2 separate regions of the Homo sapiens genome follow, and region 1 is linked to region 2. A link means that fine-mapping ties the variant in region 2 to the expression of a gene that starts in the linked region. Tissue or cell type: whole blood. Region 2 holds a variant in brackets; the other region holds the start of a gene. All regions are shown on one strand. Distances are between the middles of the regions.

What was found. PIP is the estimated chance that this variant, and not a neighbour inherited with it, causes the effect.
Region 1: it holds the start of SLC38A10, and the variant in region 2 is fine-mapped to the expression of SLC38A10 in whole blood (INTERVAL, PIP 0.97).

Annotation. Positions count from the first base shown.
Region 1 is chr17:81,294,177-81,296,855 of GRCh38, reverse strand. SLC38A10 (solute carrier family 38 member 10) reads left to right here and starts at 1,549. Exons shown (of 16, transcript NM_001037984.3): 1 at 1,549-2,033. The coding sequence starts at 1,935. RefSeq lists an enhancer at 884-973 and silencers at 1,634-1,903, 2,004-2,073.
Region 2 is chr17:81,325,102-81,327,780 of GRCh38, reverse strand. All of the region lies in intron 1 of TMEM105 (TMEM105 long non-coding RNA), which reads left to right. Among named protein-coding and RNA genes, the nearest start is that of TMEM105, 4.2 kb to the left of the region's middle. The variant G/AG (reference allele first, on the strand shown) is at 1,306.

The DNA of each region.
Region 1 (2,679 bases), 31 kb after region 2:
GAAGAGGGGAAGAAGGTGCTGGAACTGGGGAGGAACTGAAAGGGAGGATCTAAGTCTTCGGTAATATTTTGTTCTTAAAGCTCAATAGCGGGTCCATGGTATTTGCTATTTGTGAAAACATACATGTAAATTGCCCAGCCTACCTCGCATGCATAACATTTGATGAAAATTACATAATAAAAAGGAGGTTATGGAATGTGTATGCCATTTCATTTATATAAAAGTAAATGGGCTGGGTGCGGTGGCTCATGCCTGTAATACCAGCACTTTGGGAGGCCGAGGTGGGCGGATCACCTGAGGTCGGGAGTTTGAGGCAAGCCTGGCCACCATGGTGAAACCTGGTCTCTACTAAAAATACAAAAATTAGCCGGGTGTGGTGGCGGGAGCCTGTAATTCCAGCTACTTGGGAGGCTGAGGCATGAGAATAGCTTGAACCTGGGAGGTGGAGGTTGCAGTGAGCCAAGATCACACCACTGCATATACAGCCTGGGCGACAGAGCAAGACTCTGACTGAAGAAAAAAAAAAAAAAGAACGCAGGCATTTGTTATTTTGCCTGCGTATTTAATTAGTCTTTACCCAGGCATTTCCTCCTGTTCTCCTGAAGGTGGGGCACAGCCTTACTTGGTGGCTGCACTGCCAGTGCCTGAGGAACGGGCCTCTGTTCTAAGACACCTGGTCCTGCAGGTGCTGCAGACACGGCCTCCTTTCCTCCGCCGTCCTCCCCCAGCAGCCTGGAATCACTTGCTGCTTCCCAGCCATTCGGTCTACGCGCTCATTCATTAGACTCAGAGTGAGCAGCTAGGTGCCAGGAATCCACAGATCTATCGGGACCCTTCTCTGTTCTCTCCTCTCCCCGGTCTCCATTTCTACCCGAGGAATTCTCATTTGTCCTTCAAGCTCCAGCCTAGAAGCCACCTCCTTCTGGAAGCCCTCCCGGGTTTCCCTGTTCATGTAAGCCTCCACCTCTCCTGTCCCCTCCAGGAATGTCCCTTGCTCTTTTCGTGTGAAAAGGTGAAGTTCAACATTGCCACTGATCTGGGCGCAGTTCGGCAGGGCACCGCCTCCCCTTGGAGCTGTGTGGCCTTAGCGGAGTGGCCGAGCCTCTCTGTGCCCAGCGTTTCATTCCTACCTCCTAGGTGCTAATTCCTCACAACAGACTATTTTTCGGCTGAGGCAGTCAGGGCCCCCGCCCCCGTGCCCTGGCGCCAAGCACTCGCCCCAGAATCGGTCCTGGGAATAAAGGTCAAAAAGGAACCCTTAAACCCGCTCCTCCCCGGAAGGCACAGCGCCTCCCCTTCTCTCCAGCCCGCGACTGCCCATCCAAACCGAGGCCTCGCGGGGCGAGTCCCTTGTCCTCCAGCTCGTTGAACTGGGGCCCCGGGCACAGGTCGGCTGGACCAGCTTGGCGAACCGGACAGCTGCGAGACCCTCAGGTGCCCACCGGCCCAGTTTCCGCCCGCCCCTCCGGGCCCGCCTCTCATTGGCTCGCGTCCCACCAAACCCTACCCCCTGGCCGTCACTTCCGGGCAACGGAGCCCGTGGAAGGCGGAAGTGTGAGCGCCGCGGCGGCAGCTGAGTTGGGCTGAGGTGTCCCTAGCTGGCTCTGCGGCTCTTCCGGGTCTGGGCTCGGAGATTCACAGGCGGCCCGCGAGGCCGAGCGAGGGACGCATGGCCCTGAGGCGGCCGCAGGGCTTGGCGGGGTCCGGAGGTTGACCTCGCCCCCGCAGCCGGCCTTCGAGGCTGCCTCCTCCAGGCAGCCTCTGGGGCCCGCGCCCGCGCCTGCTCAGGCTCCCGTGTTCAGGCTGCCCATCCCCTCCCCACCGGCGTCCCGGACGTTGGGACCTGTGACCGTGGCCTCGGGCTGGGCTTCCAAAGCCGGCCGCAGCCCGGCGACCCCCGAGGCCTCTCGCCCCGGGCCCCTAGACCTCTCACTATGACCGCGGCCGCCGCCTCCAACTGGGGGCTGATCACGAACATCGTGAACAGCATCGTAGGGGTCAGTGTCCTCACCATGCCCTTCTGCTTCAAACAGGTGAGTCCGGTGGGCCCGGAGATCACCGCCCTCGCCTCCCCCGCAGAGGGGGCGTCTGGCTGGGTCGTCCTGGTTAAAGTTCCCGCCGGGGCAGGGCTTCGCTGGGCGGGTGCAGGCGGCCGCGGGCGGGGCGACCCTCTGGGTCCCGGCGCAGTTCCCGTAGAGAATCCGTGGATGAGAAGCGCACGGCGTTGGCCCTGGCAGCCCTTGTCAGCCCGGGCCGGAAAGTTCCCCACACTCAAAAACTCGATACCGAAGCAAAGTGTAACAAAGCAAAATGATCCTCCAGAATCGGAAGGGAACGGTGGGACTCCGTATTTTTACATTTTATCGTGTTTTTAAAAACTCTGACCCAACTGCACCTGTCTTCAGAAGCACACAACTCACCACTCCCAGGCTTCGACACTAGATAGGGACCTTGGTTGCAAGGTGATTAAAAACATCCACCAGGTTATACACCTAAGATCTGCGTTTCACAAAAACCGCACATTTGGCAGGGGGTGGTGGCTCACACCTGTAATCCCAGCACTTTGGGAGGCCGAGGCGAGTGGATCACCTGAGGTCAGGAGTTCGAGAACTGCCTGACCAACATGCTGAAACCCCATCTCTACTGAAAATACAAAAATTAGCCGGGGGTGGTGGCACA
Region 2 (2,679 bases):
GTGAAACCCCATCTCCACTAAAAAGACAAAAGTTAGCCAGGCGTGGTGGTGAACACCTGTAATCCCAGCTACTTGGGAGGCTGAGGCAGGAGAATCGCTTGAACCCGGGAGGTGGAGGTTGCAGGGAGCCAAGATCGCACCACTGCACTCCAGCCTGGGTGAGAGAGCAAGACTCTGTCTCAAGAAAAGAAGAAAAGAAAAAAGAAAAGAAAAGAAAAGAAAAAAAGCAGAGCACAGGATTCCCACGTGACTCAACGATGCCACTCCGGCTACAGACCCCAGAGAACTGAAGGCAGCAGCTGGTGCAGACGAGAGCGCCAGAGTCCACAGCAGCCCTGGTCACGGCCAGCAGGAGGTGGAAGCACCCAAGTGCCGTCGACCCATGAGTGGACAGACACACAAGTTGTGGTCTAGCCACGTGTGGAACAGGGTTCAGCCTGGAAAAGGAAGGAAATCTGACACCCGCTACTGCGTGGATGGACCTCAGGGACGTTATGCTAACTGAGGAATTCCAGACAGAAAGGGACGTGGTGTGTGCTTCCACTTCTGTGCAACTTCTAGAACAGGCCATTCACAAAGACAGACAGAAGATTTGGGGTCACCAGGGACTGGCGGGGGGGCGGAGGGTGGGAGGGATATTGCTTAATGAGTACAGAGTTTCTGTTTGGGATGATGAAATGTTCTGGAACTATTAATAGAGGTGACAGTTGCACAACATCGTGAATGGAGTTGATGCCATTGAATTACACACTTGAAGATGGGTCCGTTGGGGCCGGGCGAGGTGGCTCATGCCTATAATCCCAGCACTTTGGGAGGCTGAGGCAGGTGGATCACCTGAGGTCAGGAGTTCGAGACCAATTTCACCAACATGGTGAAACCCCGCCTCTACTAGAAATACAAAAAATTAGCTGGGGGTGGTGGCGCATGCCTGTAATCCCAGCTGCTTGGGAGGCTGAGGCAGGAGAATCGCTTGAACCTGGGAAGCAGAAGTTGTGGTGAGCCGAGATTGCACCATTGCACTCCAGCCTGGGTGACAGAGTGAGACTCTCCAAAAAAACAAAAAAACCACAACAGAAATTCGTTTTCTTGTGGCTCTAGAGGCCTGAAGCCTGAGGCTTGTATCTACTAAAAATACAAAAATTAGCTGGGTGTGGTGGTGCACGCCTGTAGTCCCAGCTACTCGGGAGGCTGAGGCAGGAGAATCGCTTGAACCCGGGAGGCAGAGGTTGCAATGAGCCGAGATCACACCACTGCACTCTAGCCTGGGTGACAGAGTGAGACTCTGTCTCAAAAAAAAAAAAAAAA[G/AG]GAGGGGGGACCCTGTGCAAGGCCAGGAGGGGCCCACCTGCGTCATCTGGCAACCCATCCCTTCTGAGGGCCAGACCCGTTGGCAGCAGGGATAACAGGCAATGCCTCTGTACTTTGCCTTTTTTCTTTTTAAAAGACAGAGTCTTGCTCTGTTGCTCAAGCTGGAGTACAATGGCACAATCGTGGCTCACTGTAGCCTCAAACTGCCAGGCTCAAGTGATCCTCCCATCTCAGCCTCCCAAGTAGCTGGGACCACAGGCATGTGTCACCACACATAGCTAATGTTTTTATTTTTAGTAGAGACGGGAGTCTTGCTGTGTTGCCCAGGCTGGTCTCAAACTCCTGGGCTCGAGCAATCTTCGCACCTCAGCCTCCCAAAGCGCTGGGATTACAGGCATGAGCCATGGTGCCTGGCCCACTTTGCTTCTCATTCAAAGGTTGGATGGGGAAGGTGAAATCGTCAGGGCCAGGAAGGCTGGGATCAGCTGTGGTCTCTTCCTGCTCCCTCCTCTGCCTGCTCTCGGGGCTGCTAGGCAGAGCTGGCTGTGGTCGGTCAGGCAGCATCCTTCCTCTGGCCTGCATCTTCCACTTTTTCCCACCGCCAGAAACCTGTTGGAGGTGGACCCCGGCGTCGGGCAGGTGCTGGTGGGCGTGGCCTCCCCTGTGGCTGAGAATGAAGCCTTGCCTGGTTCGTGGTTTGGGTTTTGGGGGCCTCAGAGTGTGAGCCTGAGCCAGAACCTGGTCCTCTCACCACTGGCCCTGCAACCCTCCTGGCTGCTGAGTGCACGCATCGCCCTTCAGTATCTGTGCCGGGAATAACATCTGCACACGTGTCACGAGACACACAGGCTCACGGTGGCACTCAGGGATGCCCAGGCATTGCAATGCTAAGCCTCAAGTGACAGCAGTGGTTTGGGGATGGCCCAGAGTCTCCAGTCTCCCCAGCATCTCAGGGTCCCCCAGAAGGCAGGGGCCTTATCAGCCGAGGTTGCAGGGGTGTGCCTGGTGCCTACCACCTCTGCACAGTCGGGTGGGCAGCATGGCTGGCCGCTGTAGAGGGGAGTCTCAGACTGTGGCGACTCCTGGTTGGAGCACGGGTCCCTGGCCATGCCACAAAGCATCTGACCGCTGTCATGAGGCACCTGTTGTGGCCTTTCAGGTTTTACTCTTCGGCTGTTTCCCAGCTAAGCCTCCTTGGGGCAGGCTGCTTCACATCTCTGATCCTCACTTAAGGATCTCGAGTTGAGATCATCCTGGATTACTGTAGGCCCTAAATCCAATGACATGTGTCCTCAGAAGAGAGGGGAGAGACATCAGGGAGGAAGGTCTCTCGAGGACAGCAGAGATCAGAGTGACGCCGCCGCAAGCCAGTGA